Linked DNA regions of Homo sapiens. The gene in region 3 interacts genetically with the main gene of each other region. Each region holds a gene or a part of one and is shown on either strand. Other genes may lie near its edges. The genes, in order: COPE, PDSS2 and FH.

Region 1 (3,526 bases), on a different chromosome or scaffold from region 3:
CCGGCCAGCCCTGCTGCCACCCACCCACCTCCCTCCCTAAATGGTGCGGCCGCCTCTCATCGCGGCTGGGTGCTTGGCCCCAGGACCCTGCCACAGCAGGACTCTGCCTTGGAGGAGGGTTTGCGGGGCGGCAGGAGCAGCACCTGGGGTTAACGCTGACCCTGCAGGGCCCCTCCGGCTTTGCTGAGCTGAGGCCTGAGTTTTTCCTGCCCTGGCCCCCACTTCCTCCAGGCCACTAGGGGTTCTCATTTTGAATCTTGGTGCCCCTCATGATAGCGGCATGACTTCTCTGTGCCTCAGTTTCCCCCGATGCCAACCAGGGCTGCTCAGTGGCCTCTAGGGGCCAGGGTGAAGCATGGGGACAGGGCTGTGCTGCCTCTGGCCTGCAGGAGCAGGTTGTGGCTGTGTGAGGGGCGGGGTGGGGGTCTGCACACCTGCTGCTCGTCACAGACCCTGGTCTCCAGGAACAGCCCTGGATGCCAGTGCCCCAGGACTCTCCCTGAGCGTCAGCTCCCACACGCCCCCAGCAAAGTGACCAGAGCACATCATCAGGTGGAACACCCTGGAGTTGAGATATTTATTAACAGATGGGGGTGCTGGGGGTGGGCTCCTGCCCCCAGAGGGGATGCAGGTGGATGCCGGGTGGGGAGGGCTGCAGGGCTGGCTCCTGGCCTCTGTCCTGGCTTCATGGTCCTGACAGCTCTGGGCCAGCCTCAGGCGCTGGGAGCGTACTGTAGCACCAGCCTGTCAAAGTCGTTCTCCTTTAGCAAGACACATGGCAACACAGGGTGGGGGCAGGGTGTGGGGAGACAGGTGGAGGGAGAGAGAGAGGGCGCATGTGAGCCCAGGCTGAGCTCCAGGCGCCCCCTGGCCTGGTTCTCGGGGACAGGCCATCCCCACCACTCACCTTGGCCTGGTACTCCTTGATGAAGGGATGGGACCTGTGGGCATCCTTCAGCTGGGACAGGTATCGGTTTGTCACCTGCAGGGGAGGCAGGGAGGCAGGTGAGCCGAACACGGGGACCCCACGGTGGCTCTGACCTGCTGGACAGGGGTGGATTGGGGTGAGAGCCACAGTACCCCAGGGGGCTCCTCACCCTGCCTTGGGACTGGGCTGATCTCGGAGAACCTTCAGGGTGGGGGTGGAGGGATGGGCCTGCCCCCTGGAGAGGCGCTGGCATGGAGCTGGCCTCCGTACATGGTGGGGGATGTATTGTGGTGTTCAGGGGAGCAGGTCGGGCAGGGCCCCAGGTGAGGATGGGTTGGGGGGCACAGGGTTTGTGAGGGAGGTGGGCTGCGGTAGGCATACTGTATACAGAGTTTTCCCAGGGGCCTAGGGATTAGGGCCTGGACCCCAGGCTGGGGTCCCAGGGTCTGGACATTAGGGTTGGCCTGGAGCCCTGGGGGCCGCTTACCTCAGGGGGCTTGCCCAGGTGCTGGGACAGGACGATGAGGTTGACCAGCGTCTCTGGGTAGCCACTATCCTGGAGACACAGGCAGACACGGGGAGGCAGGGTCAGCCACTCCAGCCCCCATGCCTGCCCGTCACCCCCACCTCAGGCAGCACCACACAAGGTCACCTCCTCAGAGGTGGGGTGGGACTGACACCGCCCACCGCTCTGCAAGGTGGAGATCTCAGATGATACGGTGCCAAGGGGCCAGCCGCCTCGCTGAGCCTCAGTTTCCCCATCTGTAGTCCAGCCTGGGGTACGACCCCTTGTTTACAGAGACTTGGGAAGGTTGTATTTGTCCCACACATCTCAAAGCCATGGGGCCCAGACCCAGATGGCCTCAACTCCTGCTGTACAACGAACCCCGAGGCCATGGGCAGACCTGCCACCCCTGCACCAGCTCCCAAGGAGCCTTGAAGGAGACCTCGGCAGGGGACCTTGCCTGACTCACTCACTCTAGGCTCCCAGCACACAGGACCCTAGGAAACATCTAGGCCAGGAGACCCAGCCAGAGCCCTGGTGTCTGCTTGGAGCACAGACACACCAACGAGGATGCGCCCAGAGCCCGACCTGCCCACGGCGGCCCATGGCAGGGCACCTTTTTGCAGACCGGACTTTTCTGAGCCTCAGTCTCCACCATGAAGGGGGACACCAGCTTGCGCTCACAGGAGCAGCCATGAGGTGGCTCCAAAGGGAAGTGGGGGGACCTGAGTGCCTCCCAAAACCCAGCAAGAATGCAGGGTGACCACAGCCACGGGGAGGCCACCAGGGCCAAGGGGCACGGCCAGCCAGCCCCAGGTGGTGTTTCAAGAGACAAGGACAGAAGGGAGTCATCTAACTGGTGAGTCACGGAACGTGTCACCTGAGAGGTGTAACAAAAGCCCCCAGAGGATGCGGCCATGAACACAACATGCATCCAAGTGTTCTCAGGTGGCAGGGAGGGGCAGGGTGGTGGAGGAGGGCGCCAGTCTTGCCCCTGGGGCAGCGAGGGACACACAGCCTGTCTGAGATTGCACATCAGGCTGGGAGTTCCTGACTAGCCCTGACTGCTCAGAGCTAAAGATGGACCCTGCTCAGGAGGAGCAGTACCCGGCCTGTGATGGGGCCAGCCTGATACCCCTTGGCCAGCCCCGCTCTGCAAACAACTTTCTGATGATAACTCAGCCCCTGGAAAGTCAGACAGGGAGGAGGGCTTCACCAGTGTTTGTCACTAGATTAAAACTGTTTCTCAGCTGGGCGCACTGGCGCATGTCTATCATCCCAGCACTTTAGAAGGCCAAGGAGGGTGAGAATTGTTTGAGCCCAGGAGTTCAAGACTAACCTGGACAACACAGTGAGACCCCATTTCTAACAAAAAATACAAAAATTAGCCACGCATGGTGGCATACCGTTTCAAAAAACAAACAAAAAACCCCCCAAAATTCGTTTCTCCAAAATGGAAAAAGCTTTGATGTCCTTTCTGATTATAAAAATAATAATCCAGGCTGGGCACAGTGGCTCACGCCTGTAATCCAGTACTTTGGGAGTCCAAGGTGGGCAGCATCATGAGGTCAGGAGATTGAGACCATCCTGGCTAACACAGCAAAACCCCATCTCTACTAAAAATACAAAAAATTAGCTGGGCATGGTGGTGGGCGCCTGTAGTCCCAGCTACTCGGGAGGCTGAGGCAGGAGAATGGCATGAACCCAGGAGGCAGAGCTTGCAGTGAGCCGAGATCACACCACTGCACTCCAGCCTGGGCGACAGAGCAAGACTCCATCTCAAAAAAAAAAAAAAAAAAAATCCACCAAGCATGGTGGCTCACACCTATAATCCTAATGCTTTGGGAGGCTGAGGTGGGACGATCACTTGAGGCCAGGAGTTCGAGACCAACCTGGGCAACACAGCAAGAACAACCCCGTCTTTACAAAATATATATATATTTTTAATTTAACATAACATAAACTCTTCATAAAGACTGCAGATGGCCAGGCGTGGTGGCTCACGCCTATAATCCCAGCACTTTGGGAGGCTGAGGCGGGTGGATCACCTGAGGTCAGGAGTTTGAGACCAGCCTGACCAACATGGCAAAACC
Region 2 (3,655 bases), on a different chromosome or scaffold from region 3:
GCACTCCAGCCTGGCAACAGAGTGAGACTCCGTCTCAAAAAAAAAAAAAAAAAGTAACATTCAGATCTAATACTATGTGTCTTTCTTGAATTTTCATATGGACTATTGTGTCAACATATGGTGTTAAAAAAAAAGTTATTAACTAAGATATTAGTGAAGCCTTCCTCACATAAGAATATCAGGCTGCTGGCCAGGTGCGGTGGCTCACACCTGTAATCCCAGCACTTTGGGCAGCCTAGGCAGGTGGATCACTTGAGGTCAGGAGTTCGAGACCAGCCTGGCCAACATGGCAAAACGCTGTCTCTACTAAAAAATACAAAAATTAGATGGGTGTGGTGGCGCATGCCTGTAGTCCCAGCTATGTGGGAGGCTGAGGCAGGAGAATTGCTTAAACCCAGGAGGCGGAGGTTGCAGTGAGCCGAGATCGCACCACTGCACTCCATCCTGGGCGACAGAGCGAGACTCCATCTCTTTAAAAAAAAAAAAAAAAAAGGGAAGAATATCAGGCTGCTGAATTCAAAATGCCAGAGATGTAAATGCCCTCCGCCTTCTTACTGCCATCCCCCAGCATGGCACATTTCAAGATATTAAGGGATGGGAGTCAGGAGGAGCTGTAATTAAGCTGATTGGAACCTATTGTGCTGCTCTGGAGCACAGACACCAAGCAGCCTTAGGGAATGAGTGCCTCAAGATCACTGGGAAATGATGTCCTCTTTTCCAGAAAATAACGTAGCAGAAATACTCAATCTATACTATTTCTCCCTTTCTTTGTTTTCCATCTCCCCTCCCCAATTTAATTGTGGTGCTTACTGTGTACCTTTAAAACTGACTTTTATCATGCATTTGTTTCTTAACAGTTGCGAGAAAGAATCAAAGCTGGCAAAGGTGTGACTTCAGCTATTGACCTGTGTCGTTACCATGGAAACAAGGCACTGGAGGCCCTGGAGAGCTTTCCTCCCTCGGAGGCCAGATCTGCTTTAGAAAACATTGTGTTTGCTGTGACCAGATTTTCATGACATCAAATTAAAAAGACACTATTGTTAGTTAGCTGAAAATCCTAGGGAATGAGGTTGATTGGGAGCGCTTTCACGATGCGTTAATGACTTTTAAAACATATGCATTTTTCCTTCCTTTTATCACATTGCTAAATGAGTTCTGCTTTCTTTTTGGAACTGCTACAAACAAAATTAGAAGAAAAAAAGGTCAAGCAGTTTTCACTTGTCACGCCAGAAGCACACTTGAGGCTGCAGTCGCAGAAATAATTAATGAGATTCGCTCCTGTGACCTCAGCAAATGGACAGGAAATAAGTCCTTATTGATTGGACCGAGCCAGGGATGGCGCCAGGGCGGTGGCCTGTGGTTTTTCCTGCTAGAGAGGACAAAGCAAGTTGGAAGCTGCAGGTGTCAAGAGAAATGCTCTCAATACCAACCAGGGAGGATTGTCTAATCAAAAACTAGTGACCAATTTGTCATAATGGAGAGTAGTTCAATGGATTGAGAAAAATATGTTTTATTTGTTGGCTTGTAATTATGTCTCTGGATTATTATTATTTTTTTTTTAGATGTAGTTTTGCTCTTGTTGCCCAGGCTGGAGTGCAATGGTGCAGTTTTGACTCACTGCAACCTCCGCCTCCTGGGTTCAAGTGATTCTCCTGCCTCAGCCTCCCGAGTAGCTGGAATTACAGGCACCTGCCACCACGCCTGGCTAATTTTGTATTTTTAGTAGAGATGGGGTTTCACTATGTTGGTCAGGCTAGTCTCGAACTCCTGACCTCAGGTGATCCGCCTGCCTCGGCCTCCCAAAGTGCTGGGATTAGAGGCTTGAGCCACTGCACCTGGCCTCATGTCTCTGGATTTATAATGCAGTATGAATATACTTTGTGCTTTATGGTTTTTATAATGTCTTTTTGGAGAAATTGCCGAAAAGTTGCCAAATACTTGAAGTAGGAGATTAAAATGTTATCAAATGTTAAATTGGTTATATTAGGAATAGTCTGTTTTTCTTTCCTGAAGATCAGTTTTTTTATTCAAACACATTTCAAAGAACCAAATTTTTTTTTTCTTTAAGGAAAAAGGAGCTTTTTTTCAAGTGAAATGTATTCATTTGTAATACTTTGGTTTAAGGCATACTTTAATTTTTACGAGTTTCAGAAACAGAATTTTTGTACTAGGGAATTCATTGGTGAGAGTGTTCTTTTAACCTCAGAATGTCAAATTTTGGTCTTGAACCACAGACATCCAATTACAGAAAGAATATAAGCAATCTCACAGGCCTGCAATCGGACACTGTCTCTGTGTGGTTCATAGGAGATGATTTTTGAGGTTTGCACTCATGCAATTTGAGAACACCGTTGACAAGAAGGCTGAGTTTACATAAATGATCTAGATTGAAACTCAGCTACCTTTCTTCCTCATGTGGTGTAATTACAGCCCTATCTGGAGACAGCGAATACAGCAAACAGATTTTATTACCTAGTTCGCTCAAACACTACATGAAGTTATTTTAGTTAAAGCCCTCCCCCAAAAGTTATAAAACCATTTTATCAGGGCCCAACATGTGGCATGCAATGAAGAGAAAATGTAAAGCTACAGAGGTTAATGTATTGTATTATAAAATATTTTAAGTGTACTCAAAATATCATAATTGTACAGTTTATGCCACCATAATTTGAGGCCTATAGATTTAGCTTAAGAGAACACTGTTCTGTTTGAAATGCTTTCTGTCACTGAAATTGGCTTAATTAGTAACCATGGATAAGATGCTTTAGATCAGACTAGGTTTTAATCATTAACTTCCACAAAGAAGTCATACTTTGCGTTAGGTGTGCTGGTTGGATGTGCAGGAACTTCAGCAAGCAGTAGGTTTTACTAAGCAGATGGTCGGGCACTGCAGGGCACCAGGCAGGATCCTAGGGCGCCTCTTATTCTGCGTTAGCATCTGGTTTGCTGTATGACCTTGCACAAGTCACTTCCTTCTGAGCCTCAATTTTCTCATCTGTACAATGAGATTCAAAAGTTGACCTGAAAGTCAAGTGTGAAAAAAAAAAAGAGATTAAACAAGATAATTATGAAATTCTTTCCAGGTTTGTTTTATTTTCTGAAAGTTTACTATTCTTGACTGTCTAAATAGCAAAGATGCTGTGTGAGGTTCAGGGAGGAGGGAAGGTGAAACCCAAAGAGAGGCCCTGAAGGAATGGAGAGAGCTTAATGGCAAGCTTCCTGCCAAGCTGCCTCTGCATGACCTAAAGGATTCCAGCTCTCCTATGTGACATGTAACCCTGGACTTTTCTGTCTCAACACCTGCCTTGCTGCTTTCTTCGGGACCTTTCCTACCTCCCTGTCATCTTCCCAGCTGCTCTCGTGTCCTTTATCCCATCTCCTGTACCTTGCCATCCTGACTCCCTGGAACCTGGATCCCTGGGAGCAGTAGCCCCCTGCTGCCTGCTGAGTGACAGAGCTCTGCCTCCCCCACAGGGGTGGCTGGCCTCCTTCCTCAGGCCCCACTTAGCAGAATTCTCACTTCCTCAGCATCACGGCAGGCTTTTACAGAACATAACAAGTTGGCTAGTTCACTCCAAAATACAAGACCAATAGCCTTTCTCCCTGCCCCTTCTTCAGGGATATTTATTTCTTAGCACATATGAAGTTCTTATAG
Region 3 (3,652 bases):
GACCATCCTGGCCAACATGGTGAAACTCTGTCTCTACTAAAAATACAAAAATTAGCCGGGCACGGTGGCGCGCGCCTGTAGTCCCAATTACTCTGGAGGCTGAGACAGGAGAATTGCTTGAACCCGGGAGGCGGAGGTTGCAGTGAGCTGAGATCGCACCACTGCACTCCAGCCTGGCGACAGAGTGAGACTCCGTCTCAAAAAAAAAAAAATTAATTTAATTTTAAGTTCCGGGATACACATGCAGGATATGCAGTTTTGTTGCATAGGTAAATGTGTGCCATGGTGGTTTGCTGCACCTCTCAACCCATCACCTAGATATTAAAACCCGGCATTAGCTATTTTTTCTGCTGCTCCCCCTCCGCCCACAGGCCCCTGTGTGCTTTGTTCCCCTCCTTGTGTCCATATGTTCTCATTGTTCAGCTCCCACTTACAAGTGAGAACATGCGGGTTTGGTTTTCTGTTCCTCTGTTAGTATGCTGAGGGTCACAGCTTCTAGCTCCATCCATATCTCTGCAAAGGACATGATCTCATTCTTTTTTATGGTTGCATAATATTCCATGGTGGATATATACAACTTTTTCTTTATCCTTTATTGATGGACATTTGGGTTGATTTCATGTCTTTGCTATTGTGAATAGTTATTTTGGATTTTTATTTGGCAGAACTAAATGATTGTCTTTTCACTCTTGCTGGGTATTTACAGATTTTTACTAGGGTTCTACAGTTTGTAAATATTTTTATTTCAATACTCATTCTTTTTTCCCCCACTAATTTAAAACTGAGATTTTTTAAAATTACACTTTGTATTTTGGTTTCAGTTTCCTAAAAAGTGTATAGTACACAAACACATCAAAGTATTACTCTTAACCATGTCTGACATATAATAGATAATATATAAGTATTTATTCAATTCCATATGAATGATTAAATGATGAGAAAACTTTCTACCACATTCAATTAAATTTAAGATGCCATTAATTAGAAGATGCACCAATAGGCACCACTAAGAAAGAAAAATGCTACCAATTAAGGTTGTGACTTACCATTGATTACAAGATACATCTTGATTTCAGAGATGTTAAAGTGTGAAAAGAATTGAGAAATGCATAACATATTCTACGGGAGCCCAACCGGAGTATGAAAAATAGTCAATGCAGGATAGGCTAGTAAGCCTAGAAGTAGATAGGCTTCATCCTGTGAGATATTGTTTAACACTTATCTTATAAATATGCTTTTATTTTCAATAATTTTAAGTCATTCCTAAGCCTTCAAGACTGCCTCTTGACAGGTATATAGAACTTTACAACAGGCAGCTGAATCTTTGATGAGAATATCTTTGTCATTGCCATCTACAGCCTTCTTGGTGGTGAGGTAAACATAGTTTGACTACGTGGTTAGGTGAAAAAGGGTAGTGACCAATCCTAAAATAATCTCATATTATTCAACTCCAGAGACTAAGGAGGAGGTCAGCCCCAGCTAGTGTTGGTGGGAGTGAGCATGGCTGCCGTTTTCATTGATCTGTGTCACCAGCATGTTTTGTGGTTCTGGTGGGGCATGGTTCCTGCTGCTGCTGCTCCAGAGACAGCACAGCCATTGGGATTGCACACCTGTGAAAGGCAGACACCTGGGGTCTCGATTTTGTCATACTTTCTGAACTTTATTATGTGTAAAACAGTCTGTATGTACTCTAAACTGAGTAGTATGATTAAACTCAACCCTTTTTACTTGAGGTCCAGAGGAAAACAAAGCTAAAAAGATTATGAACATCTAATGTGAATAAATTAAGAATAAAGTGACCTGTCTTTTCTCTCTAGTGATACATTTTGCCATTTTATGGTGTTCGTTGAACCTCTTTCTGCTGTGAATGACCCTTTTTTATTTTTATGGTCCATAAACACTGGGGGTCATTCACTCCATTCAGATGGCCAGCGTTGATTGGCATTCACCTTTGCCCTTGGTAGTGGTTCAGCCCACTACCTCAGTGTTTGTTACTGTGGAGATTTAAATTCCCATTTGTTTTTGTGTTTAAAGTTTTTAAGTTTCTAATCCTGTGTGCCATCTGTCCTCATTTCGTTTGAGTCAAACGTTTCTAATGTTTTAATTTTAGTTACTTAAAATTGAAATTTCAAATTTTCTGGTTTTCCTTTTCTATTTGACCCTCAGCTTATACTTACTCTGGTCCAGGTTTATGTTTTTAATGTGTCTTATTTCTTACTTTTCTTGGCTTTTTCTACTTTGATTCCAGAGATAGCAGGTTCTCTCTTATACATTCATCATTCTCTTCCTTTCTTCCCTTTCTCCCTTCTACTCTTTCCCCATTCAAACCTGGTGTGGGATCTATACAACAATCTGTATTATTAATTTTGACAAGAACTCACAATTCACTTGTCTTATAAAAACTAGGTTTTCATTTCAGTTTATCCTTTTCAAGCTTGGTGAGGTGATTTGGGATAGACAATGAAAATATCTGCATTAATGGGGTTTTATATATATCGGAAGCTGTCACCTTTAGGTCTGGAGAATCTTGGGTTTAAAAAAATAATTCTTCTGAGAGAAATGTCCAGGGAGTTACTGAGTATTAAGGCTTTACTAGCTAAGTAGAATAGATTGCTTTTTGGCCTTGGGGTGAAATGATAACCCAGTCAGTCACTGGTAGTCTCATACTGATTGGCAGTTAAATATATCCCTTATTTATTTATTTTTTTAAGAGGGGAAGGAAACAATTATAATGTAACGTGGGATCCAGTAAGAGAAAATAATGGTTCTTGCTGGTGAAAAGATTGAGTACTAAATTTGTTTTTATTTATAGTATATGAAATAAACACATATAATTTATTGTGTGTATTTGTGCATAGGATTGTATTCGTGTGAATATGTGTGTATATGTATGTGGGAGACGTACACACATATATATATGAAGAGTCAATGTATTTGTTTTTATTTGGTTCCTTAAACAAATAGATCTATGATAATGTTGATTCTTGGTTCATGAATTCCTGTCTATAATCTTTCTCTATAACCGAAACATTTTAGAGCTATAGTGTTACTGTTTTATTGTTATTGTTTTATGTATAGCTTTTGCATCTGCCAAAATAATAAACTTCCATGCTTAAGTAAAATTGTAAATTTGAAATATTTTTCTGATTAATTTTAGACCCCAGTTATTAAAGCTTTTGGCATCTTGAAGCGAGCGGCCGCTGAAGTAAACCAGGATTATGGTCTTGATCCAAAGATTGCTAATGCAATAATGAAGGCAGCAGATGAGGTAGGAGGTGATAAGTGTGTTTGCTTAATAACCTCAGACCCATGCCATACTCTGGATGACGATATGCTCTGGCAGAAGGAAAGGGGAACTGTGAATTCTTGAATTAATGAATTTCAGGGGAGGGTGGTAGCATTATTTTTAGTGGTGATATTAATATGGTGCTTAAAACGTTACATTGTGACAAAATTTCTGGATGATTTTATACCTTTTGTTTTTAAGCCTTTTGACTTTCCTTAATTTATATAGTTTTAAGAAAATTTTTTGAAAAGATATCATTTGAACTTTACTTGATTTTTTATTTTATATATAAATCTTTTTAAAACCAGTTGATTATTTGATAATGCATATTGAGAATGTAATTTTACTAATATGCTAATAACATTG

Evidence for each region.
Region 1: changes in FH (region 3) and COPE together harm fitness more than expected from each alone (negative genetic interaction), as found in Homo sapiens cells (one large-scale study listed by BioGRID).
Region 2: changes in FH (region 3) and PDSS2 together harm fitness less than expected from each alone (positive genetic interaction), as found in Homo sapiens cells (one large-scale study listed by BioGRID).

Annotation. Positions count from the first base shown.
Region 1 is NC_000019.10:18,898,966-18,902,491, forward strand, and holds the end of COPE (coatomer subunit epsilon), read right to left. Parts: intron 1,485-3,526; coding exon 1,416-1,484; intron 983-1,415; coding exon 908-982; intron 762-907; coding exon 714-761; 3' UTR 549-713; downstream 1-548. UniProt on the Homo sapiens protein: The coatomer is a cytosolic protein complex that binds to dilysine motifs and reversibly associates with Golgi non-clathrin-coated vesicles, which further mediate biosynthetic protein transport from the ER, via the Golgi up to the trans Golgi network.
Region 2 is NC_000006.12:107,151,980-107,155,634, reverse strand, and holds the end of PDSS2 (all trans-polyprenyl-diphosphate synthase PDSS2), read left to right. Parts: intron 1-857; coding exon 858-1,016; 3' UTR 1,017-3,073; downstream 3,074-3,655. UniProt on the Homo sapiens protein: Heterotetrameric enzyme that catalyzes the condensation of farnesyl diphosphate (FPP), which acts as a primer, and isopentenyl diphosphate (IPP) to produce prenyl diphosphates of varying chain lengths and participates in the determination of the side chain of ubiquinone.
Region 3 is NC_000001.11:241,513,219-241,516,870, reverse strand, and holds part of FH (fumarate hydratase, mitochondrial), read left to right. Parts: intron 1-3,157; coding exon 3,158-3,268; intron 3,269-3,652. UniProt on the Homo sapiens protein: Catalyzes the reversible stereospecific interconversion of fumarate to L-malate. Experiments in other species have demonstrated that specific isoforms of this protein act in defined pathways and favor one direction over the other.